Linked DNA regions of Homo sapiens: region 1 is linked to region 2. Evidence: fine-mapped expression QTL. A gene starts in region 2. The other region holds a variant in brackets. All regions are shown on one strand. Distances are between the middles of the regions. Region 1 holds the start of OR10P1 (olfactory receptor family 10 subfamily P member 1). Region 2 holds the start of CD63 (CD63 molecule).

Region 1 (14,898 bases), 90 kb before region 2:
ATCCCAACTCCCTTGCCCCCAAGATGTCAAAGCTACCCCTCAAGATCTGCTTTCTGTTCCATTCAGCCTTTAACAGCCTCATCTCCTGCATCCAGGGGTCACGGGTAACCAGTCCTGTAGCCAGCCAGCCACACCCTGCTGGTCATCCTCTGTCCATCTAGCTGGTTAACCACAGGTTAGCTGTTCCCCAAGCCACATGCCCATTCACTGATCAATTTGCCATCTGCCTGTCTCTCTAAGGCTTATTGGAGGTATACGGATGGTTTTATGGTTTTAAAAAGAGCCACGGAAGGGGGAAATGGAGAATTGCTTAATGGGTATAGAGTTTTCATTTTGCAAAATGAAAAAGTTCTAGAGCTCTGTTGAATATACTTAACAATACTGAGACATACACTTAAAATGGTTAAGATAGTAAATTTTATGTTATATGTTTTCACCACAATAAAAAATAGTGTTTTTTAAAAAGAACTTCATCCCCTCTCTGTGACCCTGCGGGCAGTTACTCTGTCTTTCTCAGCGATCCTCTGTGGGAGGCTTTGAAAAGTTTAGTGGTGACTTCAGGGCCAATGTCTCTCTGAAGATTGTCCCAACTGTGTCAGGATGTGTGGGAAGAGGAAAAGGGAAATTATCAGAGTCAGAGTGGAAATAGGGAAGGAAGAACAGACAATCTGGGGGAAACTTGCCTCTCCACCCTCACGGACGACATCTTAAGGCAAAATCTAATTAGAGGTCTGAGAGTGAAGAAATGCTCACAGTGTGGAAAAGGTGAGGTGAGTATGGAGGGAGGGACAGGCCTGGATGAGGACAGGGAGGGTCAAGGAGTCCAGAAGAGGACAGGGTGAGAGAGGGCTGAGGGGAAAAAAAAAAAAAAATCCTATTGGCACAATGTACACTATTTGGATGACGGGTGCACTAAAATGCCAGACTTCATCACTATACAATTCATCCATGTAACCAAAAACCACTAGTACCCCTAAAGCTATTGAATTTTTTTTAAGGGACCTGTTTTACTAAGAGATGAAAGGTTGGTATTGCCACTCATGTGTCCAGCTACAGGAATCCAAAACAATTATAACACAGCGAGACCCATAAAAATGTCCACATGCTTAGCCAATAATATTACTCTTAATTTACCCTAAGGGAATAAGCTAACAGAGCAAACTGAGACACACATGAAAATATTGTTTTCATCATTGTCTACCATAGCAAAAAAAAGATGGGACAGCGTAAAGTGCACAAGGATGAGAAGCGTTTGTTAAATGTTAGTGGAGAAATTCAATGGACTACTACAAGAATTTTTTTTGAAAGATTGTTCAGAATACCATGCGGTCTCATGGCAAAATGCTTACAGCAAACATTAAAAAAGGAAAAGAAGACATAAGGTATATACACTATGACTACAAGCATAGAATATGGGTTTGCAGTGGGACAAAGACTTGAGAGTGATATATGAGAAAAAAAGAATTTAAGGTGATGGAATAATGGTGGATTTATTCCAAATGTTTCCTAAATATTTTTAATTGAAAAAAACAACATTTTAAAAATTTGAAAACATCAGGATCTATTTCGTGTTTTCTTGGTGGTGTGGACATCTGAAAAGTTTTTTTTTCCTTTTTAATCAGCCAGCCCAAAATGTCATGAAGATTTATGGACGAAAGTAGAGAGGACTAATGAACTCAGATACTCCTTCTGTCCAAACTGACTACATGCAAGTTCATCTCCCAAAAGTGTAGAGTGAGGCTATTGGCCTCACAAGACATATAGTAAGTATGTGGTTGATACCTCAGGCTCAAAATTACAATTCTGGTTCTGCTGTTCACTGACTTTGTGATCTTGCATAGGTCGTTTAAACCCTCAGAGCTCTGGTTCTTTATCTGCAATGACAAAATAACAATTGTCACTAATGTTGTTATAAAGGTCAACTGATATACTGTATAATCCCCAGCACACAGCACTCTCCAAACATAAGCTAGAATAAATGGTTTAAGGCCACAAAAAAAAAAATATGTTGAGAGAGCAGAGTGAGGGTGGGATGAAAGTTAAGTGCAATGGATAGAACTTTGAGGCTCTGTTTCCTAAATATGAAGATGGCCAGACTAACCTCATGGCGTGGGTCAATATGGGTGATCAAAGCTCCGTGAATCTTGGGACCAGGACTTCTGAAAGTCCAGTCCAGTTTCCTGTCTTTGTCAAACTAGCTGCCTAAATTTAGGCAAATCACTTAATTGTTCTATTTATCAGTTCCTCTGTCTTTATAACTGAGATTCGTTCACTCATCTAATAAATGTTTAGCGAACACTCGACATGGTCCAAGTACTGAGCTTGTTTTTCTGGTGATTAACCTCTTTTTTTTTTTTTTTTTTTTTTTTGAGGCAGAGTCTCACTCTGTCGCCCAGGCTGGAGTGCAGTGGCACGATCTCGGCTCACTGCAAGCTCCACCTTCTGAGTTCACGTCATTCTACTGCCTCAGCCTCCTGAGTAGCTGGGACTACAGGCGCCCACCACCACGCCCAGCTTATTTTTTGTATTTTTAGTAGAGACGGGGTTTCACCGCGTTAGCCAAGATGGTCTCGATCTCCTGACCTCGTGATCCACCCACCTCAGCCTCCCAAAGTGCTGGGATTACAGGCGTGAGCCACTGCGCCTGGCCTTGGTTTTTTTTTTTTTCTTTTTTTTTTTTTTTTTTTTTTTTTGACTGGTGATTAACCTCCAAGGCAGTTGATAACTTGGTGGTTAAGATCACAGGCTCTGGGGTTAGGCAGACCTGGATTTGAACCCAAACTCTGTCACTTACAAAATGTGTGACATTGAGAAAGTTACTTAACACTGTCTGGGCTTCCCTCTCCTTATCTGTAAAATGGAGAAAATGAAGGTTTCTATGTCGTAGTGTAATTAGGAAGATCCAATGATTTAATGAATGTTTAGCCCTTAGCATGGTGCCTGGCAGGAACCAAGCACTTGGGAAACATTAGCAGCTGCTAAAATAGGTAACTGCCTCCCCACCTCCCCACCACGTCCTGCAGGATCTCACAGTGGAGTAATAAGTGCTAGGACAAAAGGACAAGCAACATCTCATGAAAGCAGAGATAAAAGTGCCTTCCTCAAATACTCAAGGGCTCTCTGGTGCAAGAGGAGTTAAATATTGTATGAAATACTAAGCATTTAGCCAAGACCAATACAGTAAAGTCTTTTCCTACAGGCAGAAGAGGCCATAGCTAGAAAGGGCTACCTCAATAGGTGGTGAGTTCCCCATCACTGCAGATGTTCAAACAGACTCTGCACAGCACCCTTCTAAAATGTTGAAGATAAGATCCAAGTACTGTCATATGGAAATATATGTTCCTAAATGTCACTTTTAATCTTGAAATGCCATGGATAATTATTTCTGAGCCTGAGGATCACAGAAAGCTGCCACCGAGATAGCGAAACTTGAGTGAAGGCTTGAAGTGTGATGGGATTTTAATATGAAGAATAGAAATATCCTCTGAAAGGAGACACTATGGCAATGCATGGAGGCCTGACAGAACAGGGTGTGCTGGGACAGAACAGCTAGTGTAGCTGATCACAGGGCCCCAGATAAGAGGAGAACAGAGAAATCAGGGAAGGTGTCAGAATCCCAATGATACCATTGGGCAGTATTATCACAAATAGTCATATCACTGTGTGACACTCTTAACCCACAGCTCACTATGGTGAACATTAGACACCAGTTCGGGACAGTCCCTGGTGCTACCCAGTTTCTTTTGTGCCTCAGCATCCATCTAGAGAGTACAAAGGGGCCTAGGTCATAGCAGCTGCTTCACCCCTCACTCTGGAGAGAGATCCAAAGATCAGAGCTAGAGTCTTTACATATGAGAGTCAGGCCCCAGACACAGGACGAGAGCCCAGGAAACAGTGAGAAAGGCGTCGAATTTGGAGTCAAGAGACCTGGATTCAAGTTCCAGGCCTGCCACTTTCTAGATATTACCTCAGACACATTATTTAATCTCTCTGAGACCCATGGCTCATTCAGAGAAAGGTATTAATTCTCTCACTTGATTTTGAGAGGAACTGTGTGGCAAGTGCTTTACCAAATTACAGAAATGTTGCTTGTTATTTCTAAATAACTTCTCTTCTTGGCTGTGCCTCAGCTTCTGGCCTGGAGTGATGGCTGGGGAAAACCATACTACACTGCCTGAATTCCTCCTTCTGGGATTCTCTGACCTCAAGGCCCTGCAGGGCCCCCTGTTCTGGGTGGTGCTTCTGGTCTACCTGGTCACCTTGCTGGGTAACTCCCTGATCATCCTCCTCACACAGGTCAGCCCTGCCCTGCACTCCCCCATGTACTTCTTCCTGCGCCAACTCTCAGTGGTGGAGCTCTTCTACACCACTGACATCGTGCCCAGGACCCTGGCCAATCTGGGCTCCCCGCATCCCCAGGCCATCTCTTTCCAGGGCTGTGCAGCCCAGATGTACGTCTTCATTGTCCTGGGCATCTCGGAGTGCTGCCTGCTCACGGCCATGGCCTATGACCGATATGTTGCCATCTGCCAGCCCCTACGCTATTCCACCCTCTTGAGCCCACGGGCCTGCATGGCCATGGTGGGTACCTCCTGGCTCACAGGCATCATCACGGCCACCACCCATGCCTCCCTCATCTTCTCTCTACCTTTTCGCAGCCACCCGATCATCCCGCACTTTCTCTGTGACATCCTGCCAGTACTGAGGCTGGCAAGTGCTGGGAAGCACAGGAGCGAGATCTCCGTGATGACAGCCACCATAGTCTTCATTATGATCCCCTTCTCTCTGATTGTCACCTCTTACATCCGCATCCTGGGTGCCATCCTAGCAATGGCCTCCACCCAGAGCCGCCGCAAGGTCTTCTCCACCTGCTCCTCCCATCTGCTCGTGGTCTCTCTCTTCTTTGGAACAGCCAGCATCACCTACATCCGGCCGCAGGCAGGCTCCTCTGTTACCACAGACCGCGTCCTCAGTCTCTTCTACACAGTCATCACACCCATGCTCAACCCCATCATCTACACCCTTCGGAACAAGGACGTGAGGAGGGCCCTGCGACACTTGGTGAAGAGGCAGCGCCCCTCACCCTGAAGGGACTCGGATGTCTGCTCACTCACTCAGTGCTCATCCTCCCACTCTTCAGGGACTGGATTTAAACCCCACTCTCACAGAAATCATGCAGCACCTCAAAGGAAAAGGCTTCCTGGAAGAAAGTGCTGAAATTAAAACAGAGATAAATCTACATATTGCCTCTTATCCCAGAGTCCACACTCACTATCAGAGCATGGGTTATTAGGTCAAGGTAGAATGAAAGTGATTGCTGCCCTAGGGAAAGGACATTTATTTAGCATCTTCTAGATTGTTCTGGATCCCTGAGCACAGTGATTGCCATGGCTGCACCGGTAGCCAGAGGTCCATGTCAGTCATGAAAGCAGGTGTCTGTGAACTTGACATCCAACTAAGTGGCCCACCCAAAGCCTGTGGAGGAGTTTACCTAGCCCCTCTGTTACATTTTCTTCCACCACCTGTGTCTGAGCTTTCCTCTACTCAGTGGAACATCTGTTCTCCCCTTGGCCTTCAGGAAGAGGGGCATCTGAGGGTTCCAGTCATAAGGCTCTCTCCTTCCCAAGATACCAGCACAAAAGGGAAGATGGTCAGATGGTATCAAAAAGGACCAAGTTAAACATCAGGAAAAGTTATCTCCCAGGACAGCCTATACATGTCTCCCAGAAACACACTGGGGTGTCCTACTGTGGGTGCTTTTGGGAAAGAGCTGGTCAGGGATTCCAGAAGACCCACCAGCTTGAGAGGCAGGATCCAGAGCTGGAGCTAACCAGGGAGCCAGAAGCAAGACAAGGTGGAAGGAAAACACTCCCATCCCTCTGTGCTGAGGTGCCACCGGCTGCCCACTTCCCTCAGCCCAGGGACAGATGTTTCTCCTGCTTTATTCCCTGGAGCCCCCCATAGCTAAAGGGCAGCAGAAGGCCGAGGCAAAAAGACAGGCTGTTCCACGTCCCCTCTATTCCCTCACCTCTCACACATCATTACCACCTTTGTGTCCTCTAGCCAAGAAATGCCAGAAACTCTGGCTTTCAGTGAGGAGAGACCTCAACATTTCATCAATAACATGAGCTGTTCAGGAAATGATGGGAACCCAGTCTTCCCTCTTACCACCCCTGTGATCTTCAAGGAGTCCTTATCCCTCACAGAGGCTCTGCTCTTGTGCGAAGGAGTATTCAGCCATGGGAATCAGTGTGTTCTTCTGTAGCCCAGCCTCTGCACCCACTTCTTTCTTTTCTTTTTTCTTTTTTTTTTTTTTTTTTTGATGAAGTTTTGCTCTTGTCGCCCAGGCTGCAGTGCAAAGACGCAGTCTCGGCTCACTGCAACCTCCACCACCTCCCAGGTTTAAGCAATTCTCCTGCCTCAGCTTCCCAAGTAGCTGAGATTACAGGCACGCCCGGCTAATTCTGTATTTTCAGTAGAGATGGGGTTTCACTATGTTGGCCAGGCTGGTCTAGAACTCCTGACCTCAGATGATCCAGTCAAAATAAGTCTCATGAAGTTGTTCTCATTCCTAGAAATAGAGAGTAGAATGGTGGTTACCAGAGCCTGGAGAAGGAAGTGGGGAAGGGGACATAGGGAGGGATTGGTCAGTGGATACAAAGGTACGTTTAGAAGGAATAAGTTCTAGTGTTCTATGGCACCATAGGGTGACCTCAGGTAACAATATTGTATTGTAGATTTCAAAATAGCTAGAATAGAGAATTTTGAATGTTTTCACCACAAAGAAATGATAAAGGCATAAGGTAATTATAAATTTAGAAAGGGAGATTTCTTTTTTTTTTTTTTTCTAAGACAGGGTCTCACTTTGTCACCCAGGCTGGAATGCAGTGGTATGATCTTGGCTCACTGCAACCTCAGCCTCCCTGGTTCAAGTGATCCTCCAGCCTCAGCTTCCCAAGTAGCTGGGACTACAGGCACATGCTGCCATACCAGCTAATTTTGGGGTTTTTTTGTCTGTTTTTGTTTTTTTGTAGAAACGGGGCTTCACCATGTGGCCCAGGCTAGTTTCGAACTCCTGAGCTCAAGTGATCCATCCACCTTGGCCTCCCAAAGTGCTAGGATTACAGGCGTGAGCCACCGCCCCCAGCAGGAGGCTTTATTTCTTAAAAACTGTTACAGCATGTAAGGTGGCCATTCTAACAGGCTGGGAAGCATAGGCTCCAGCCAAAGCCCAAAAGGCAGGCACTTCGAGGGAGAGGCAGGTGGAACAGGGATTTATGTGCTAAGCAGGTTGGCCA[G/A]GTGTACACATTCAGTAGGTTACGGGAGGAGCTAGGAATATTCCTGAAGGTGGTCCTAACATGTAGGTGCTAAATAAACATATATGTAGCATATGACCCATGTTCACCTTGGGGTGCAAACTTAACATTTACGTGCATTACAATTTAGACCCTTACATCAAAAGGTGAAGCAGAGACACAAAGGCATTCAAGTGTGCAGCCTCTGTAAACTGGCCAGAAGCAGCCCCTGGGCAGTGGTCTTCTTATCAGGAGAAAGTTACTGAAATCAATCATTTGGCCAATCAAAGCTGTAGTTATGGCTTGTGGAACAGGGGAGTCAGCCAGTAAGTGTCTGGTGGTGGAGGAGCTACAACTGTTTTGCTATTGCTTATCTCGAAGCCAGAGCTTGTTTAGCTGCTAGAGAAAAAGGAAAACCTTGTGGCAGTTAGAACATAGTTTATTCTTTAAGTGTAGGAATGTGTGACTTAACCTTTGCCTGGCATGGCCTTAAGTCCTGTTCATAATTTGATATATTATTGCCACAAAGAGTCTATTCTGTCAATCTCATGACCTCTATTTTAACATTAATGCTGGTCAATTGTTGTGTCTAAACCATAGAAGAGAGGAGGTACAATAAAGTGTGTCTGACCTTCTATTCCATCTTCTAGATTGTTCTGGATCCCTGAGCACAGTGATTGCCATGGCTGCACCGGTAGCCAGAGGTCCATGTCAGTCATGAAAGCAGCCATCATGGCTGAGGACTCCGTTTTTAAGGTTTCTCAGTGGGTGGGGGGCGTGGGATTTCATCTTTAGTTTACAATATGCTAAATATCTTGATTTACTTATTACACAAGTGTATACATGTATTAAAACATCACAGTGTACCCCACAAATATGTACAATTATTATGTATCAATTAAAATAATAGGCCAGGTGCAGTGGCTCATGCCTGTAATCCCAGCACTTTGGAAGGCCAAGGCAGGAGGATTGCTTAAGACTAAGAGTTTGAAATCAGCCTGGCCAACATAGCGAGACCCTGCCTCTATTTAGGTTTTTTTAATTAAAATAATAAAACAAAATAAATGTCATACTCCCTGCATTCACCACTATCACCCAGTTACAGACAGAGGATCCATACAAATTACAGGTCACTCCAAGCAGGGGCTCACCATTTGAAGGGAAAAGAGTACATGTGGCCAAAGGCAAGACAGCCTGAAAGAAAAACCAAAGAAGGCAAAAATGCTCTCTACAGTACCATGAGTAACTAAGGTCACTCCTCCACCTATGAAGAAGCAAGTCAGGGGCCAGAGAGGACGGCAGGAAGTGTTTCTACACTTGTTTCTCTCTGGGAGTGGAATAAAAAATCCCTTCACCTTGTGGAAAGCCTAAGGATCAGGGTAATTACTAGTGCTCCCACCTCCACTGGGTACAGACCATAAGGATGTTGTGGGCCACTTGAGAACTTGGGGGCTCATCCTCAGTGACAAGACCAGGTTTGAGTTTTTAAAAGATCACTCTAGCTGTGGTATGGAAAATAGGTAATAGAGGCACCAAAAAGAGACACAGAGACCACAAACCAGTCCATCAGTCAGGGCACTTAGTTGCAAACGACAGATTCCACTCTGATCATCTTAAGCAGAGACTAATTATTCAAAGAAGATTTCACAGTGCACAGCGTCTCCAAGGGGAACAGGTTTACCAGCCGTGTGGCCAGGGTGACACTCAGCACCCGCAAGGGCAGCTCCAGTGTCAACTCCACGGCACTGGCAGCACAGTTCACACAGCACTGCCCAGTGCCTACAGCTGGCTCTCGGGACGACAGGCCTGGGCTCTGCCAGATGCCTTCCCTACAAGCTCATTAGATGGTGAATTCTGCATCCTCCTCTGTAGAATCTGGAAAAGCAATTTACCTTGGGGAATGAAGACCAGTGAGGCATAAAACTTCCCAAACATTGAAAGGGTGTTCCAAAGGCACTGGACAGACAGAAAAAAAGACAAATGTCCCCCAGAGATGCCACTGCTGCAACCAGGATCCAGGTGGCCAAGACACTCTCTACTGAAAAGATAGAGAGATACGGTGCAGTGATCTGGAGCAGGCAGAACTTGGAGATGATTAGAATCTGAACAGGAAGCATGGAAAGACAGTCAAACCAGAATGAATAGTAATAAGAATAGGTAACATCACATACATGCTAGGTACCAAAGACTATACTAACCTCTTAACCTGTAACTGTCTTATTTAATCCCCATAAAAACTCTACGAGGTACAGATCTCAATTTTATGGGACCTAAAGCTCATACAATTTAAGACAGCTCTATTTAATAAAAAATATCCATGGCTACTTCAACACCCCCCAGAAGAAGAGGAAATGTGACAGAGAGGAAGCAAGAGTGAAAAAGACAGACATTACAACAGCCTGCAGTTAACACATCACTTCTGCAATTTATATAAGGACATTTGACCACAGGAACACAATTGCTAAGGCTCTTTCCACACCTTTATGAGGAACCCATACAAATGAAGAGCCCCAAAAGCTTAAGCTTGACAGTAGGTCCACCTGTAGGTCAACTCTATTGTTATGCCAATTTCAACCAGTTGAGGAAACCGAGGCACAGAGACATTAAACAACTTTCCCTAGGTAACACAGCTAGGAAATAACAGACTTGAGTTTCCAGCTCTAGAGCCCATGCTTTCAATTCTCCCTCCAAAAACGTGAGTTTAGAGAAAGTAGAAAGATGAGGGCAGCCAAGGAGCTAAGGAGCATAAACAGAGGCAAGAAAATGAGATCAGTGACACACGGTGTGGGGGGCGGGGACAGGAGAGCCTCCTCTGCTGGAAGCCACTTCCTCTCATCTGGACTGGGTATGCAAATCTTGAGAAAGAAAATGCAATTTTTCCCGTCTCATAAGCAGAGAAGATTCCAGAAGCCACTTGCTGTTGCCTGGCAGGGCACAAGGTCACCCTTCTTATCCTGCCTCAGGGTTACATCGGCTTTCTCGCTCTGCGCCACCAAATCCACAGGCACCTTCATCAGGTCACCACCCCGTAGAGCACCACACTGGTCCATTCTATTGATGAAACTACACTGACAGCATCTGGAGAGAGGAAAATGGCAGGTACCCTTGATGTACATTTATAACTAGGAGATAAATTTAGGGGCCTGGCCTCTCTGTGAAGGTTTTCTGGGGATATCAGGGTATCTCCTCAAATGTTACGGACAAGTTGCCTCACCTTTTGCTCCCTACAGTAAGAAAAGACCTCTTGTAGTTATCTGGATTTGGGAAGCGACATATAGTCCTTTTGGGTTGGCTGCTTCAACCCACTTATCGGATGTCCTAAAAGCCAGAGGAAGCAAATGCTCTCCCAGTGGCCCACGCTGCAGTTCCGCCACTGGGCCTCCCAACTGCCCAGCAGACTGTAAGAGGCTCAGTGTCAGTGGCACTGGAGCCTGCGGTAAATCCAAGAGGTGAATCACAGATTTGGGAGCCAAACCTTGCCCTTTGGGGCAAACAATCAAGATCCTTTTGTGAAACTGCTCTTGGGCTGCTTGTAGGCAACAGTATACACTGAACAGCTGACCACTGGACACCAGGTGACTATGGAACAGTATTGCACACCATGAATTGGGTGTAATTTGACCCACTCACCCTAAAGTTAAGTATCCCCAATAGCACTTAATAGACAAGTGAAATTGGTAAAATCAGATGGGGCCCAAGCACAGCCTGAAAACAAAAGGAGGTTGCATATACCTCATTCTCCAGCAAATCAATCTTTTTGGGGGGTATGGGGATGTGGGAGCAGGAGCTTGCTCTGTCGCCCAGGCTGGAGTGCAGTGGTAAAATCAAGGCTCATTGCAGCTTCGAACTCCTAGGCTCAAGTGATCCTCCCGCCTCAGCCACCCAAATAGCTAGGACCACAGGCACATGCCATGACCTCCAACTAATTTTTTATTTTTACTTTTGTAAAGATGAGGGCTCGCTATGTTACTCAGGCTGGTCTTGCACTCCTAGCCTCAAGTGATCCTCCCACCTTGGCCTTCCAAAATTGCTAGGATTACAGGTGTGGACCACTGAGCTTGGCCCCAGTTCATTCTTAATAGGCCTACAAATAGAAGGGTCATAATGGCAGGAAAGGAGGCCATCCATGAACTTAACAGGGTCTTCCCCCCAAGCTCTAAGTGGATAGAGCTTGTGGGGGACAAAGCTCTATCCACTTCTACAGAAGCCATTAGGCCCAAATTTGTGGATTCTCTAAACTCTGACAGCCGAGACACAGCCCTGTGATCTTAGCTAGTCCTAGCAGATGCAACTGCCTAAGACTTTGAATCAGGTGCAAGTGATTCAAAGAAGTAAAGTTTACAATTCATTTTGGTGATGACCACAGTGGCATCCAGGCCCACCAGCAGCAGCCTCAGCACCTGCACGGTGCCAGAGGAGTCACGGGCAACAGTGCCAGCAGTGCCTGCAGCATCCTAGCCAACCACCCCTGTGCTATGACCTGGCCTGTGGTTCTGGCCTCTCAGCTTCTTTTGGTACCTGATCATTGCCTAAGCCTGGTTTTCCAAGATTCCTCTCAACTCCTTGAGCTACCAGAGTCAGGTTTTCTCTAACCCAGAATTGTTCACCTGCTTCTTTCCTCCTCTTTCATGGCCCCTATGGCCCATCTGATCCTTTCTGAGTTATCCCCCTCATAGCTCACACCAGGATTTCCTCTTTTCCAAAAACTCTCTTCCCCAAATCCCACACACACTTCTCCCCTTCCTCTCTTCAGCATTAACACATTTTAAACTTTCCAGCAACTTTAGGGGGATTTTTTTAACAAAGTCTCAAACTTTTAAGACATCTAAAAACTGCTCTGAAAGTCATCATCAAAGTTCATAAGAAGGCAAATGATAGTAGTAGCAATTATAGTATAATCGAAATAGATTAGTGAACACTATTACCTACATGCACTGTGCTAAGCAGCTTTCATATATTCATTTACTTATCGATTCAGCAAATATTTCCTGAATACCTACTATGTGCCAGGCACTAGGGATACACTGGTAAACAAGACAGGCAGTTTCTTCCCTTCCCCCTTTATGGTACATCTCATTTTAATGAAAGGAGAGAAGCCACAAACAAACAAGTTAATTTATATGTCAAGTGATGATGTGGTATAGAATGGCTGAGGAAGGCTGTGTTTAATCCTCACAGCAACCCTGTGATACATAGAAACGATTATTGTCATGACTTTACAGATGCAGAATTTAAGGCACAAAGATGTAAAGAAAACTCCCACTATTTCAGATGGTAAGTGATGATCAGGATTTGATCTTGGACTTGCCAACCACCAGAGGCAAGCTCCAAACCACCCTGTCATAGTGCTATCTACAACCCAGCCTTCTGGTCAGCCTTCCTTAGCCAGCTCCTTATCCTCTACTCCTAGACTTTCCACTAAAAGAAAGAAATCTATTCTCTTCTTTGATGTCCCCTACTCCCAAGGACAGACATGGGCTTTTTGCTCCCTGGTATTCATAGTGTACTTCCAGTCCAAATATGTCCCACCCAGTCCTTGGTAAACTGAGGAAAAGTGAGTTTGTGTCTTCATTGGATCCTTTCTGCATCATAAGAATATTAAGTATCTATACCTTCCCCATTCTTCTCTTCCTTGCCACACTGTCTTCCACAATGGTTGAACTAATTTACACTCCCATCAGCAGTATACAAGTGTTCCTTTTTCTCCACAACCTCATTAGCATCTGTTTTGTTTTTGTTTTTTGCTTTTTAGTAATAGCCATTCTGACTGGTGTGAGGTGGTATCTCATTATGGTTTTGATTTGCGTTTCCCTAATGATCAGCGATGTTGAGCTTTTTTTCATAAGCTTGTTGACTGCATGTATGTCTTCTTTTGAAAAGTGTCTATTCATGTCTTTTGCCCACTTTTTAGTAGGATTGTTTGGTTTTTTTTCTTATAAATTTAAGTTCTTTTTTTTTTTGAGATGGAGTCTCACTCTGTTGCCCAGGCTGGAGTGCAGTGGTGCAATCTCGGCTCACTGCAAGCTCCGCCTCCCGGGTTCTCACCATTCTCCTGCCTCAGCCTCCCGAAGTTCTTTATATATGTTGGATATTAGACCTTTGTCAGATGCATAGTTTGCAAAAGTTAAGAAAATCAGTGTTATTTTAAAGGTCTCAGCACAGGCCGAGAATCCAGCCGGAAGTAGCGGGTGGTGCTGCGCCGCAGAAGGGCAAGGTGAAGGCGAAGCGGGCTCGGAAGACTAGGGCTCCTCAGGTAGTAGAATGCAGCGGCCGGCAGATGGCGTCACAGCGGCGGAGGCCATGGCCCTGCGCAAGCGCATTCGGCGATGCCAGGGAGGGCGAAGAAACCCAGCAGCGGGAAGCCGCCTACCGGTGGGCTAGTGCGGCGGGGGAAGGGAATCGGCCTGCATCCGAGACTCCGCCGCTGTGGCGTGGGACCTCCCCTAAGGAGAAGTGGTGCAGGAGGAAGTGCGTGGGCCAGCGCAGGCAGAGGCTGCCAGGGCGAGGACGACGATCAGGGAGTTGTCCAGCAGGGTCACCAGATGTTTGCAGAGCACTGCCCAAAACAGAAGGCCCCGGACGGAACCAAAACCTGAGAGCACCAACAAAACAAGCTCAGTCATGCTGTGCCATTGCCACCGCCATGTCCCCAAGGCCAGACTGGAGGACGGGGCCAGAGGAGGGCTCGTGCTGCCCCAGGAAGCATCCAGGCAAAGACAAAGGCCGCAGCAGGAAAGCTGTGGGAGAGGCCACAGGAACAGCCCAGCTCTCCTTCCCGCCCAGAAAACTCCTCTGAACAGGAAGATTAGCCAGGGGAGTTGAGGGAAAATGGCAGGACCTTCCTCAAGGCTGGGGACTTAACGGACACCAGGGTGGTTCCACTCACCCGAGTTCTGGGCTCTAGGAGCAAAGAGCTGGGACCAGCGGGACAGCTGCCTTTGAGAAAGTGGTTGAGAATATGGGCAGAAAAGTGGGTGAGCAGACAGAATAAAGCTGACAGGAGATCAGAAGAAAAATGGATCCACCATGAGGTGCAGAGTGAGTGGGAGTGAGAGCAAGAGTGAGAGAGAAGACAGGATCAAAGACCACGGATAAAGGCCTGGTGGGGCTTTACCTTCAGATGGGGCCCCTCCTGGGCAGCCCTCGCAGCACCTCAATCTCCCCAAGAGCCTAGTTCGCAGAGCAGAGAGTGGGGAGGGAAAGTAGGCAAGGCAAGATGAAGAAGGGGGAATAAAGTTTTGCCCAGGGACCAGGGAAAAGGAAGTGACTTTCTCCTGCCTCATCACTGTGCCTAAGCTCCTAGGTCTAGAGTCTCCATCCCAAACAGTGGAGAGACTACATGAGGAGGGGGCTGGGATTTATTTGCGGTCCGTCAGCAAGGCCTGAATGAAGCTGGGCTCAGAAACCAAGTGTTTCAATGCCTTGGCCGATTTCTATCTGCTAAACTGCCCAGTCCATTGCCCAAAGGGCTGCCTTCTGCCTTTGTGGCCCATGCGTAGAATTATTCCCTAGCTTAGCTGCCTTCTTCTTTTATATATATATAATTTTTTTTATGAGACTCTCTGACACCCAGGTTGGAGTGCAGTAACACAAACACAGCTCA
Region 2 (14,898 bases):
TTGTTGCCTAGGCTGGAGTGCAATGGCGAGATCTCAGCTCACTGCAACCCCTGCCTCTCAGGTTCATGTGATTCTCCTGCCTCAGCCTCCCGATTAGCTGGGCTTACAGGCACGTGCCACCACTCCCAGCTAATTTTTTTGTATTTTTAGTAGAGATGGAGTTATACCATGTTGGCCAGGCTGGTTTTGAACTCCTGACCTCAGGTGATCCACCCGACCCGGCCTCCCAAAGTGCTGGGATTACAGGCATGAGCCACCACACACGGCCCAAGGCCTGAGTTCTTAGCAGGAGTATAAGGCGCCTAAGCTTAGTCTACCTTCTAAGGAAGCCTGCGTTTGTCACCATCACTCAGCAAATAACCTGAATGTCTCCTGTCTCTCAGCCTTAATTTTTCAGGCAGCATCATGGGACACATACTTTTAGTTTTGAGACAAGGCCTTGCTCTCACCCAGGGTGGAGTGCAGTGGTGCAGTCACGGCCCACTGAACTTCAAACTCCTAGGCTCAAGCAGCTCAAGCGATATCCGCCTCAGCCTCCTGAGTAGCTGAGACCACAGGCGCGTGCCAGCATGCCTGGCTAGTATTTTTTTACAGATGGGGTCTTGCTGTGGTGACCAGACTTGTCTCCAACTCCCGGCCTCAAGCGATGCTTCCGCCTGGGCCTCCCAAAGTGTTGGGATTATAGGTGTGAGCCACTGCATACTGGAACACATACTTTATACTTGAATTTTTTTTTATCCCCTTCCCTCCTGCTCCTTACCTATACTTGGATTTCTACATCTGTGCCAGGGCAGTGGGATGTATCCCCACTTTCCCCATCAGCTTACCCTCCAGCAAATACGAGACTATACCCTTCAATATCCAGCACTCAGGGCTCAACCATGTGTTTTGGGAGCAAGGGAATGGGGTTCCTCTAGGTCAGGAATCGGCAAACTCAGTACTCAAGCCAGATCTGGCCAGCTGCCTACAAGCTGATAATGGTTTTTTTTATTTTTAAATGGTTACATTGTAAACTGTTATATAAGTACCTGATAATATCATTAATTTTGTTTCTTGGCCTGCCATGCTTAAAATATTAACTCTCTGGCCCTTTAAGAAAAAAACGTGCTGACCCCTGCTCTAGATCAAAGAAAACAAACCTCAAAAATACTTTCCTCCCTCTACCCCACTTGACCCTTGTCCCGGGGCAGTAGGCATCTCCGTCAAAACTCTTGTCCCTGGTCTGTGGTAACTTTCTCAGCTCCCCAACCCATGTCCCTCAAAGTCCCCTCCCTATAGGGCAAGAACCCAGCAACTTCGCTCTGCCCCGACTCTAGGCGGGATGTAGCTCATTTTGGGATACGAGTCTCCATCGTGGAGCCTGGCTTCTTCCGAACCCCTGTGACCAACCTGGAGAGTCTGGAGAAAACCCTGCAGGCCTGCTGGGCACGGCTGCCTCCTGCCACACAGGCCCACTATGGGGGGGCCTTCCTCACCAAGTGTGAGTAGCCAGGCCCACACAGGGGCACATGAAGGGAAACAAGTACCAGAAAGGCCAGTCCTGCATAAGCCTGCTAGGAGGTGGGTGGGGCACCCAGGGCAGGGTTGAGGGTGAACAGGATGTTACAAGAGTGCCCAGGCCATGTGGAACCTGCCCACTCCCCACACTGAGGAGGGGACTGAGGGTGACAAGCCCAGGGCCCCAGAAGACAGTACCTAAGATGGGCTGGAGTGAGGAAGGGAAACTGATTGCAACCACCTATGGGGCTGCAGACCTGAAAATGCAACAGCGCATCATGAACCTGATCTGTGACCCGGACCTAACCAAGGTGAGCCGATGCCTGGAGCATGCCCTGACTGCTCGACACCCCCGAACCCGCTACAGCCCAGGTTGGGATGCCAAGCTGCTCTGGCTGCCTGCCTCCTACCTGCCAGCCAGCCTGGTGGATGCTGTGCTCACCTGGGTCCTTCCCAAGCCTGCCCAAGCAGTCTACTGAATCCAGCCTTCCAGCAAGAGATTGTTTTTCAAGGACAAGGACTTTGATTTATTTCTGCCCCCACCCTGGTACTGCCTGGTGCCTGCCACAAAATAAGCACTAACAAAAGTGTATTGTTTAAAAAATAAAAAGAAGGTGGGCAGAAATGTGCCCAGTGGAAGGCTGACCCCATTTAAGTGCCAACTACTCCAAACCGACATGCTCACGGTCTCTGGCCTGTTCAGTCCCTGCAAAACAGCTAGCACCCACAGTGGGGCGCCAGGGAACTGCCTCACATCTACAGCTGCACGTCGGGGAGTGGCCATCAAAGGGCACTTTAATACATTTCCCTTATTTTCTGAAGGGGAGTAAGGTTGCAATTCAGTGTCTGTACTGGGAATGGTCTTCATATTTCTTGGGGGAGAAGAGCAGGTGATGAGGGTTCTGGGCCAGGCTGGGTGGCTTCCATGGAAGAAAAGGCAATATTCACATAAATTCTCCTGCTAAGGACACTGACCACACAGGTGTCAAGGCAACTTATCATACTTCGAAAGGAGCTGGATCCCTTGAGGATTGGCCAGGAAGGGAGGTGCTGGGCCCTTAGCGGTGCACAGAAGGCCAGGAAGATGTCCAAGGCAGATGGGGGCTGGGCTCTCGCAGGTGGGACCTTTCTGGGGAGCTGCTTTGACTTATGCAGCAGATGGCTTCATGAATGTTCATAGTGAGCCTGGCAGCATAAGACTAGGGGGCAGAAAGCACCACAGTCTCTGGATCCTCACTTCTCCCACTGCCTGCCCAACCAACACCTTCGCAAAGTCCTCCTTTCCCAAACACCCCCCAAAATAGACCTCGAAGTACACATGCATTAAGGTCCCAGAGGACAGGGAACATCAGTAAGGAAAGGAAGGAATCAAGCATCACTCTAAGACAAACTCAGACCATCTCTTTTCGGTCTGAAAAAATAATCCGTTTAATTGAAAAACCTGGAGGATACTATTCCACTCCCCCAGATGAGGAGGCTGAGGAGACCAGACCCCTACATCACCTCGTAGCCACTTCTGATACTCTTCACGAGGCAGCAGGCAAAGACAATTCCCAAAACCTAGAAGGAAAGATGGGGACAGGGGTGGAGAGGAGTCAGAAGGGCTAGCTACCTCAGACCCATGCAAGAGACTCCAAACACACACTCCCAGGCCAGTACCTCCTGTTCAGCACCCTCCTCCCCTCAGCCCCTTCCCTCCAGGCACCCTGGACAGAGTCCCAGCCCCTGCTCAGGGTTATCTCTTACCTCGACAAAAGCAATTCCAAGGGCTGCTGCAGCTACCACCAGCACATTTTTCCTCAGCCAGCCCCCAATCTTCTCCACACAGCCCTGAAGGTGGCAGGCACAAAGGACAAAAGCACCATCAGAAACTTCCCACCCCAACCCCCTCCCTTGGTCCATCAGTCTCTTCCCTGCCCCTGTACCTTTCACCCCACCCTTAGCATTTCCAGATCCCCTCCCCATCCCTGACCCTGTCCACCTCCATCCTGGGTCTCTTGCATTCTAAAACATTTCCCAGGTTTCCCAAGTCCCATACACAGTCTCCTCCCTACCTCCTTATGGATCGCCTTCTCGTTGAAATTAATCCCACAGCCCACAGTAACATTAATGCAGCAGGAGTCGGGGACTCGGTTCTTCGACATGGAAGGGATTTTCTCCCAATCTGTGTAGTTAGCAGCCCCACAGCACTTAAACTGGGGGAGGGAAGAAATATGGAGAAGAAGGTTGTTAAGTGAACCTTCACCTTCAATATGGAGATGAGAATTCTTTTTTTTTTTTTTTTTTTTTTTTTGAGACAGAGACTTGCTCTGTTGCCCAGACAAGTGCCCAGCGGTGGCTCAATCTCGGCTCACTGCAACCTCCGCCTCCCGGGTTCAAGCGATTCTCCTGCCTCACCCTCCTGAGTAGGTGGGATTACAGGCACTCACCACCACACCTGGCTAATTTTTGTATTTTTAGTAGAGACAGGGTTTCACCACGTTGGCCAGGCTAGTCTTGAACTTCTGACCTCAGGTGATCTGCCCACCTCGGCCTTCAAAAGTGCTGAGATTACAGGCGTGAGTCACCACACCCAGCCTTGGAGATGAGAATTCTCTATTCCCACCACCCCTGCTCCCAGCAACCCCACTCACATCTGCCTGCATCCTGTCCAGGATCGAAGCAGTGTGGTTGTTTTTCGGGTAATTCTCCATCTGCTGCCGGAAGTTGTTATTAAACTCTGACATCACCTGAGAGTACGGAGGAGCACTGTTGCAGTCAGAATTCAAGCACCAGGGTCCCAGACCCGGCTGAGGCAGGCCCTTCCCATTATTCCCTGCTTACCTTATCTCTAAACACATAGCCAGCAATGGCTGCGGCCACCTCCACCAACATGATAAGAGACAGAAAGATGGCAAACTGCAGGAGCAAAGGACAGAAGTCAAGTTTGGAGTCTATGCATTACAGGGGCCCGTTTTGGCACAGCCGGTCCCTGGACACTCACAAAGGTCTTCCTCACCCACCCACCTCACCCACCTTCCTGAGCCCGAACCAAGCTGCTCTGGCAGTCCCAGACCGCCCATGTTGGTCCCGCCCCCAACTCACCGTGATCATAAGACAATAGTTCTCCTTGCAGGCCCCGCAGCAGCCCACAAAAGCCACCAGGAAGAGGAAGACACCCACTGCGATGATGACCACTGGCAACAGAGAGCCAGGGGTAGCCCCCTGGATTATGGTCTGACTCAGGACAAGCTGTGCCCCGACACCCACGGCAATCAGTCCCACTGCACAGGCCTAAGAGAAAATCAGGTGAGGATTAGGCCATATCCACAACACAGTGGCCCTCCATGGTGGAGGGCAGGGGGTACACCTAGGACACAGACTTGACCCCATCCGGAAGAGAGATTCTCACACCTCTAGGGAATTTCTTTGGCTGTGGGGTAGGGGGATGACCCATCCTTGCCTGCCCCTACCTCCCCTGATCCCCTCCCGGCTCTTTAATCAGGGACATGACCAAATTCAAAAACCTCCCAGAAAGCCTTGACCTCAAGACACGTATTTCTGACCTAGAATAATGCTTTCTACAGGCCTCCAGGGCTCCCAGCTCAATTCTCTCCCAGAACTGCCCCCTCACTATCCTCCAGTGCACATCCCACGCGCGCATCAGCTGTGACTAAGGTTCCTCTGGCCAGTTAGGCCAGGAGAAGGGAAGAGGAAAAGGGAGCAAGAGTGATGTGTCCCTCCCTAGACAAACAGTAGCCTCTCAAGCCAGGAGCCCAGGGCAGGAGCAAATTGAAGTGGGCAGAGCCCTTCCTCACCCCCAAGCGCTGGGAGGAGGGAAAGGGGGAGAGGGGCTGGACAGGGATGAGAGGGTTGGGGAGGGAGAGAGGGGAGAAGGGAGAGCGAAGGGAAGCCCCATGGCGATAGCATCAGGCGGTTGGCTGGTTGCCCCACTGCCCCATATCACAAGTGGTTGGGTCACCAGACAGGAAGGGCCAGGAGGGATGGGGGTAGGGGTTGCTGCACACCCAGGATGGCCATTCTCGGTGGAAACAAGCCTCAGGTGTCCAGGAAAACTGGAGGAGGGAGTGGCTGCGCTGTCTTTCCCTGGCTTTCTTTCCACATCTGGTCTCCAGCTGCCTTAATTCTCATTCCCTCAGCCCTCACCACTGTGGAGCCAGGTCTCCCCGCACCCTGCCGGCGCGCCCCCCAGGACCCCTCGCCACTCACGCAAAAGGCCAGCAGGAGGACGTAGAGCAAGAACTTCACACATTTCATTCCTCCTTCCACCGCCATGGCTGCCGGGCCTGGGGCAGAGGGGAGGGCGGGGGGATTAAAACTGGCCGAAGGGGGACCTCGGTTTCCGGGCTCCCGGCCGGCCCTCGAGGGCTTCCCTTCACGGCCCCGATTCCCGGCCCCTCCCACCCGGAAACCCGCGGTCGGATCCACGTCTCCCAGCCCCCTCTTTACCCGCAGGAGAGGGGTGGGGGCGACGGCCGCGAAGCCCGGACCCCGCCCCGCCGCCTCTGGGGCCCAGGACAGATCCAAGGGCGCCGGCAGGGGCTTGAGCCTGACGCCGACCCTCGGCCCGCCAGTCTCCGGGCGTCAAACACCCTTTCCCCACCCAACACCCAGCCTGGAGAAACGGTCTTCAGCCCAACCCCGACCCCCGCCCCAGCCCCTTTCCCCTGGGCTCTGACCTCCCCGCCCACCAAAAAAAAAAAAAGTGCAGCCAGCACCCCCGCCACACCCTGCCCGGGCCCAGGGAACTTCGAAGCAAAGTTGCTCCAGGGCGGCTGGAGAGCGCCGGACGAGTCTCCGCGGGCCTGGGGCGAGCCCTGGAGGAAGGGACTGCGGGTGGTCTCTCCCAGCCCGCGCCGAAGTCCGCCGGGTCCCCGCGGCCTCACCTGGGCTTCCCAAGGCTGGCTGCGCGTTCCTCTCCCGCCGCGGCTCCGGGGCTCTCTAGCTGCGCCCCCCGGCTCCCGCCCCGCCTGCCGCGCGGCCCCGCCCCGGGCTCCAGCCACGGTCCCCTCCCCCGCCGAGTGGCCGCCGGCCTCCCTCATGTGACGCGGTAACAGCTGCGGCCTGAGTCACTGGGCCCGGCGCGGGGTGGGCCGAGCCCCCCGCCCGGCCAGGGCCACGTGGCCCCTACCCGGAAGAAGGCGCCCACCCCCGCAAAGGGAAAGCCGCAAGGGCAAGACCTCGGGGCGCCTGGGGCCCCCCTCTGGCGCTATACCTCCGTGCCAACTCGGGGTAGGAGAGCGGGGCGGAGCGCAGCCTGGGTCACTCTGGTTCAGAGAAGCGGACGAGGTGGGTGAGAGTTACCCTCTGAGCGCCGGGGCGGAGAGCTGAGGCCGGGTGACAATGTGGTCTGTGAGGTTTCCCCATCCTACCGTAGGGGATGAGCCAGCTCTCTCCTCTGGCTCCAACTCTGTGCAAGCCCCCTCCCCATCCGACTGTGCAGACAGCTGGGGACTGCCTGGGGTCGGGTGGGGCCAGAACAAACACTTCCAGAAAGTCCCTGGCTCACATCCTGGGTGTCTCCCAACATTCTACAGCATTCTAGAGTGGGGATTTCTGGCCCCCCTCTATTAGCACAGCTTCTCCATTTTCCAGGGATCCTAGTCTGAGAAAAGGGGAGGAAGCCCTTCCCCGAAGCCACGCTACCCAGTCAATCAAGACACGTCCGCGTCGGGTCCCGCCCTCTGGGGGAGGATTGACAAGGTCTGTGCTTCCAGCCTCCCAGACAGCTCCTGCATCCGTCTGTGATAGCGAGGGCTTGGGGGAAGACACGAAGGCAGGAGAGGCTTACATCCTCTGGATTTCCCCGTCTTATCCCAGAAGACAAAGCCAGGTGAGGGCTGGAAGCGGGCTAGGGGGATCAAGCTGCCTCCCTCCCTTGTGTGCCAGGGGTGGTCCCCAGAAGGAGCTGATCTGAACAGGCCGGAGAGTAGGACCGGCCGTCACACCCCCACACCTCCAGCCTCGGCCCCACTCCTTGGGCTCTTAAGGTCCTGCCTCAAGAACCACTTCCTGAGTCTTAGTGTATGTGTGTACACAAAGAATGAAAGAAGTCTCTAGAGCTAAAGGAAGGAGATCCGGGCTGGGCTGAGAAGCATCTTCCAGGATCACGGCCTTCCCGCGGGACACACCAAGCCCATTCCGGATCTTGCTCTTCCTGACCATGGCTGGCAGGCTGTGGAGGAGGAGCGGAGAGCAGAAGAAAGGAGTATTCATCAGGTTCCTTATTGTGCTGCCACTAGATGCCAGGCATGTGCTAGGCTTGGGGGCTGCAAGGAGAGGAAGACAGCGGCCCTGCCCTCTGCTAGCAGGCAGAACCGAGTTCTGGCCACACTGTGAAGAAAGGCAGAAGCCTGCGGTGGCAGCTGGTTAAGCTCAGAGGGAGGGAAAGGGAGAGGAGAATGGATTTCACGGAGCAGAAGGATGTGCTCAAGGTGACCTTGGAGAATAAAGGGGAGAGCTCCAGGGACAGAGAAGCAGTCGACTGTGGAAAAAAAAGGAGCATTTTGTAAAGTACATGGCAGGTTGGGGTTGGCTGGCTCAAAGGGCTTGGGACGGATGTGGTGAGATGGGCTGAAGGTGGTCTGAAGATCAAGATTGAGAGACTAGATACATAACAACCAACTGCAATGTTTGGTCCTTCATTGAATGGTTGAACAAACCAGCTGTGAAAGACATTTTGGGACATACAGACATGGACTGAGAATTAGACATAAGAAAATTATTTTGTTAACTGTTATCATGGTTAACAAAACGGTCATATAATATGATTATGTAGAGAAGTTACTCTAGTTTTTCCTCTTTTTTTTTCTTTATTCTCCTATCAGCCAATGCATTTGTTACAGGAAAGGGGTCCCAATCCAGACCACAAGAGAGGGTTCTTGGATCTCATGCAAGAAAGATTCAGGGCGAGTCGCAGTGCAAAGTATAAGCAAGTTTATTAAGAAAGTAAAGTGGTGAAACAACAGCTGCTCCATAGACAGAGTAGGATGTTCCCCAAAGTAAGAGGAGGGGCTAGGCGCAGTGGCTCACCACACCTGTAATCCCAGCATTTTGGGAGGCCTAGGCAGGTGGATCACCTGAGGTCAGGAGTTCGAGACCAGCCTGGCCAACACGGTGAAACCCCGTCTCTACTAAAAATACAAAAAGTAGCTGGGCACAATGATGTGTGCCTGTAGTCCCAGCTACTCAGGAGGCTGAGGCAGGAGAATCACTTGAACCCAGGAGGCAGAGGTTGCAGTGAGCAGAGATCGTGTTGCTGCATGCCATCCTGGGCAACAAGAGTGAAACTCCGTCTCTCTTTTTTTTTTTTTTTTTTTTGAGACGGAGTCTCGCTCTGTCACCAGGGTGGAGTGCAGTGGTGCCATCTTGGCTCACTGCAACCTCCGCCTCCCGTGTTCAAGTGATTCTCCTGCCTCAGCCTCCCAAGTAGCTGGGACTACAGGCACGCACCACTACGCCCAGCTAATTTTTGTGTTTTTAGTAGAGATGGGGTTTCACCATATTGGCCAGGATGGTCTCCATCTATTGACCTCGTGATCCGCCCCCTCAGCCTTCCAAAGTGCTGGGATTACAGGCGTGAGCCACTGTGCCCGGCAAAACTCTGTCTCAAAAAAAAAAAGTAAGAGGAGGAACACATTCACCCTCGGTATAATGCTTGTATATATGGAGAGATGTGCTCTGCTACAAAAGTTTGTGATAAAGGATTAATTTTCTTAATTACTGTATTTTGTAAGAATCGATATTATCTTTTTTATTATTATTAATTTGTTTCCTTAACCATAAACATCTAGGTTTTTTGTTTTTGTTTTTGTTTTTGAGATGGAGTTTTGCTCTTGTTGCCCAGGCTGGAGTGCAGTGGCACAACTCACCACAACCTCTGCCTCCCAGGTTCAAGAGATTCTCCTGCCTCAGCCTCCTGAGTAGCCGGGATTACAGGCATGCGCCACCATGCCTGGATAATTTTGTATTTTTAGTAGAGCCGATATTGTGCCATTGCACTCCAGCCTGGGCAACAGAGCGAGACTCTGTCTCAAAGAAAAAGAAAGAAAGATGAAAATGTTGTGGAGATGGATGGTGCTGATGGTTGCACAATGTGTATGTACTCAATGTCCCTGAATTTTATGTTATATATATTTTACTACACACATACACACAAAGAATGGCCCACTTCTACAGCCTGGAAAGTTGACACAGAGCTCCATGTGTTTGCTGGGGTGCAGGATAGAGGGGCCTCTTAGTGGGAAGTGGCTGATCTCAGACCTGGCCCTTCACATCCTTCAGATCCCCCAGCACCTGTTCCAAGTGCCTGACATCCAGATATGCCACCAAGCCGTCCTGGCTGGCCCAGGCTGCTGCCTCTTGGTTGCCTGGCACCAGTTGGTGGTAGGTGTGCTGAGGCGGGGACCCTTGTCCCTCCACACCAAGCAAAGCCAGCTTTCCCTCCAGCTTCACCACGCCTCCACCTAGGCCCAGCGACACAGCATGGGGGCCACAGATGTCTCAAGCAAACCTGCAGCCTTCTGAGAGCATGTAGGCATCAGCCAGACCCAGTGCCATGCACAGCAGCTTGTAGCCTGCATCTAAGCACAGGAAAGGGTGAGGGGATATGAGGAGGGTGAGGGGATATGAGGAAGGTGAGGAAGAAAGAAGGGATCCAGAATCAAGGGAAAAGAACAGTTGAGGAGAGTTGGGAGAGGGGTGAGGAAAAACCGGAAAGTGAGAGACATAGAGGAGGGTGGGAGGCATGGGGAAGGATGGGGGAAGAGGAGGCAAAAATACATGAAGGATCAATGCTTCTTGGGCTTCAGTTTAAAAAACATTTTCTTTAATTTTTGAAAAATAGGTGTAAGAGAGGAGTGGGGAGAGGGAAGAGGAAGAGATAGGGATGGGAGGGAAGAAGGAAACAAGGATGCATCATCAAAGCCATCCCCCCACTGGGAGGGTAAGGAGAGTGGTGGATAAAATTCAAGGTCCAGAGGTTGGGTCTGAAATGGGGGCCTGAAATTTAAGTCCAGAGGCCTCAGCTTTGGATAAGGATAGAGGCACGGTGCTTGATGGCATCTCTCAGATCGCAGGGTGAAGGAGGGGCTGCACCTGCGCGTTTGCAGGTCCTGCTGGCAGAAAAGCTCATAGACCATCCCGCAGGGCTCTCCAGAGAGTAGGTTATATGCCCCAGCACCAGCACTGAGTGCAGCCCCCAGGGGAGTACTGTGCACGGGCTCCATGGCGACATCACCACTATGTATTTACTGGTTGGTGGAGACTGGGGAACACAAAGGAGTCTCCAGGCCAGGCGCGGTGGCTCACGCCTATAATCCTAGCACTTTGGGAGGCCGAGGCGGGTGGATCACCTGAGGTCAAGAGTTTGAGACCAGCCTGGACAACACAGTGAAACCCCATCTCTACTACAAATACAAAAATTAGCCAGGTGTGGCCAGGGCGGTGACTCACGCCTGTAATCCCAGCACTTTGGGAGGCCAAGGCAGGCGGATCACGAGGTCAGAAGTTCGAGACAGCCTGACCAACGTGGTGAAACCCCGTCTCCACTAAAAAATACAAAAATTAGCCGGGCATTGTGGCGCACGCCTGTAATCCCAGCTACTCAGGAGGCTGAGGCAGGAGAATCACTCTAACCCCGGGAGGCGGCGGTTGCAGTGAGCTGAGAACACGCCATTGCACTCCAGCCTGGGCAACAGAGCGAGACTCTGTCTCAAAAAAAAAAAAAAATTAGCCGGGCGTGGTGGTGCACACCTATAATCCCAGCTACTCAGGAAGCTGAGGCAGGAAAATTGCTTGAACCTGGAAGGCAGAGGTTGCAGTGAGTCAAGATCATGCCACTGCACTCCAGCTTGGGCAACAGAGTGAGACTCCATCTCAAAAAAAAAAAAAAAGGAGTCTTCCAGTCACTGGGTGGCCATCTCTGCTCCAACTTTTTGGGGGAGGCCACACCCTTCATAATTGGCAAGACTACATTACCATGGTATCCAGAAGAACATATTGCCAAAGTCCCTTTTTTATCTCACTTCCAGGAAAGTGGGGCTCAGAGAGGTAAAGCCACTCACTCAGGGTCAACAGATCAACCTGCACGTAAGAATCTGGGTCTTTTTTTTTTTTTTTTTGAGATGAAGTCTCACTCTGTCACCCAGGCTGAAGTGTAGTGGCACTCAGCTCCCCAAAACCTCCGCCTACCAGTTTCAAGTGATTCTCCTGCCTCAGCCTCCCGAGTAGCCGGGATTACAGGCTGTAGCCCGCCACCACACCTAGCTAATTTTTTTAATTCTTTTTTATTTTTTTCCGACAGAGTTTCGCTCTTGTTGCCCAGGTTGGAGTGCAATGGCGCGATCTCAGCTCACTGCAACCTTTGCCTCCCAGGTTCAAGCGATTCTCCTGCCTCAGCCTCCTGAATAGCTGGGATTATAGGTGCCCACCACCACGCTGGCTAACTTTTTGTATTTTTAGTAGAGACGGGGTTTCACCATGTTGGTCAGGCTGGTCTTGAACTCCTGACCTCAAGTGATCCACCTGCCTTGGCCTCCCAAAGTGCTGGGATTACAGGCGTGAACCACCACACCCTGCCAGGGTCTTGATGTACCACTCCAGTGCTGTCACACCTGCCGCCAGCAAGAAGCTCTCTGAGGCCAGAAGCCCTGGTGTGAGACCTGGTTCTGCTGCTCATGAATGGGGTGACCTCTCTCCCTGAGCCTCAGCTTTCTCCCAGTTGAGTAGGAGGGAAACAACTCCCTTCCCCACCTCACAGGGCAGTTGTGAGGATCACAGAATAAACTAAGGGAATTGGTTTTATTACTTTAAGAATGGTGGCCAGGCCGAGTGCAGTGGCTCATGCCTGTGACCTAGCACTTTGGGAGGCTGAGGTGGATGGATAGCCTGAGCTCAGGAGTTTGAGACCAGCCTGGACAACACAGTGAAATTCCATCTCTACTAAAATACAAAAAATTAGCCGGGCGTGGTGGCATGCACCTGTAGTCCCAGCTACTCGGGAGGCTGAGGCAGGAGAATTGCTTGAACCTGGGAGGCAGAGGTTGCAGTGAGATCACAGCACTGCACTCCAGCCTGGGTGACAGAGCAAGACTCCATCTCAAAAAAATAAAAAAATAACAGAAAAATGGTGGCTGGGCACAGTGGCTCACACCTGTAATACCAGCACTTTGGGAGGCTGAGGCGGGCGGATCACCTGAGGTCAGGAGTTCAAGACCAGCCTGACCAACATGGACAGGCCCCCGTCTCTACTAAAAATACAAATTAGCTGGGTGTGGTGGCACATGCCTGTAATCCCAGCTACTGGGGAGGCTGAAGCAGGAGAATCACTGGAACCCGGGAGACGGAGGTTGCCGTGAGCCAAGATGGTGCCATTGCACTCCAGCCTGAGCAACAAGAGGGAAACTCCGTCCCAAAAAAACAAAACAAAACAAAACAAAAAAAAGGAACGGTAAGGCTTGGCTGGATGTGGTGGCTCACACCTGTAATCCCAACACTTTGAGAGGCTGAGGTAGGAGCCCAGGAGTTCGAGATCAGCCTGGGCAAGACGGTAAAACCCCATCTCTATAAAAACAAAAACGGTCGGACGCAGTGGCTCACACCTGTAATCCCAACACTTTGGGAGGCCGAGGCGGGTGGATCACCTGACGTCAGGAGTTCAAGACCAGCCTGGCCAACATGGCGAAACCCTGTCTCTACTAAAAATACAAAAAAATTAGCTGGGCATGGTGGCATGTGCCTGCAGTCCTAGCTACTCGGGAGGCTGAGGCAGGAACATTGCTTGAAACCGGGAGACGGAGCCTGCAGTGAGCCGAGATCATGCCACTGCACTCCAGCCTGGGCAACAGAGCAACACTCCTGGATCAGCCCATCTGCCAGCGTTTTGAGGTCCTTCTCCAAAGACCTCAAAAAACAAACAAAAAAGAATGATGAGGCTTTATCATACCCTGTTTTCAGACTCATGGGAATTAAAATGATTTTGCTTTGAGAAATATCTGGATACCCCACCCCAACTGACATAGCCAAGGTAGGGGTGGGAGGGACAATCCAGCCTCCTTCTGCCCCTCACACTCACCTTGGCCTTGGCCTTGGCCTAGACCCCCCAATTCAAGCCCCAAGGTCTAGCTCCTCTGGCAACCCCACACTCCAGCCCCACCCCCACCAGGATCTGTCCTCAGGGCCCGCCTCAATTCCTTTCCCCATTTCTTGGGCCCCTAGTTCCTGACCTCTGGCCCCTCATTGTCACTCCTGTCCCAGTCTCTTCCCAGCCAGTGCCATCATTAACAACGAGGTCCATCCAAATGCCCAGCTGGTGAGTGGGCAGGATGAACAGCTCCAGCCCATCCTGCTTGAGAGCCTCGTCCAGGTTCATGTCTTGTTTATGCACTCCCTTGGCCAGGATCTTAGCTGCTGTGTGGTTCTGGCCCAGAACCAGGCACAGGAGCACAGAGGTATCTACCTGAGAGTCACAGAGCCTCACAACTAAAGTTTTTCCTAGGATGGAACAGAGATAAACATAGGAGAAATGACAAAGAGGTGATGCTGGGACTGGGTGGTTATCTCAGGTTTCTGTTCCTTGGGACTAAAAGGCCAAGAGGCCTAGGCAGGGGCTCAGGAAAAATTCATTCATGTATTAATCCATGTATGGGGAGCCTAAACATGGAGATAAGTAAGACATGTCCCTGCCTTCAGGGTGCTTACAACCTTATAGGCACAGACAAAAAATACAGTGTGGTGAGAGGGCTATGACAAAGAGAACCCCTGGGTTCTGGAAGCTGCCTAGCACAGGCTGGGGGATGCAGTGGGGCAGCAGAGGACCTGAGATACCTGCCAAAGAAGAAGGGCCTGTGGCAGACTCACCCAGGCTGTTCTCAAATTTGTTGGGTTGTTCCCCATGGATGTGGTCTTGCAGCCCAGGGAACTAGGGGTGAGGAGTGCTGGCACCCCTCGGTAGAGCCCAGACCAGTTTCTCCTGCCCTCACCAATTTCAGGCTCCCATTCCCAGATCCCAGCCAGACCCGCTGGTCGTCCTGACACCCTCACCGTTCACACACACACACATGCCCCTCATCTGACAACTTTGACCTTCACTACCCTCTGCTTTCTCCTTCATTCCCTCTGGAGAGAGAATTCCCTCTGAACACTCCTGCAGTTCCCCCCTGCTTCCCAACAGCTCCCTCACCTGGCAGCCCAGGTACTGCTTTGTCGCCTCCTGGATCAGCCCATCTGCCAGCATTTTAAGGTCCTTGGAGAAGCTGACATTGCACTTAGACCCGTTCTTTTCCTGGAGCAGCAGCTGGAATAGTGGTGCCTCCTGCTGGCAGCATTGGCCACTGCCAGAAACAGGGCCTGTAATGAGGACCCACCATGGGCCCAGAGAGGGAGCAGTAGGTGAGAACTCAG

What was found. PIP is the estimated chance that this variant, and not a neighbour inherited with it, causes the effect. A credible set is the group of variants that fine-mapping cannot tell apart.
Region 1: its variant is the best candidate, but not a certain one, in a credible set for the expression of CD63 in whole blood (INTERVAL, PIP 0.56).

Annotation. Positions count from the first base shown.
Region 1 is chr12:55,632,746-55,647,643 of GRCh38, forward strand. It overlaps OR10P1 (olfactory receptor family 10 subfamily P member 1), which reads left to right and starts at 4,147. Exons shown (of 1, transcript NM_206899.1): 1 at 4,147-5,088. The coding sequence starts at 4,147. The coding sequence ends at 5,088. It also overlaps the pseudogene OR10AE3P. RefSeq lists enhancers at 3,984-4,485, 13,432-13,891. The variant G/A (reference allele first, on the strand shown) is at 7,299.
Region 2 is chr12:55,722,570-55,737,467 of GRCh38, forward strand. It overlaps CD63 (CD63 molecule), which reads right to left and starts at 6,440. Exons shown (of 8, transcript NM_001780.6): 1 at 6,384-6,440; 2 at 5,707-5,783; 3 at 4,582-4,770; 4 at 4,321-4,395; 5 at 4,131-4,226; 6 at 3,552-3,692; 7 at 3,244-3,327; 8 at 2,754-3,057. The coding sequence starts at 5,772. The coding sequence ends at 2,992. RDH5 (retinol dehydrogenase 5) reads left to right here. Exons shown (of 5, transcript NM_002905.5): 4 at 1,317-1,480; 5 at 1,753-2,136. The coding sequence ends at 1,976. It overlaps BLOC1S1-RDH5 (BLOC1S1-RDH5 readthrough), which reads left to right. Exons shown (of 6, transcript NR_037658.1): 5 at 1,317-1,480; 6 at 1,753-2,173. It overlaps CD63-AS1 (CD63 antisense RNA 1), which reads left to right and starts at 6,525. Exons shown (of 2, transcript NR_183514.1): 1 at 6,525-6,786; 2 at 7,093-8,283. RefSeq lists silencers at 5,837-6,136, 6,407-6,786 and an enhancer at 6,266-6,872.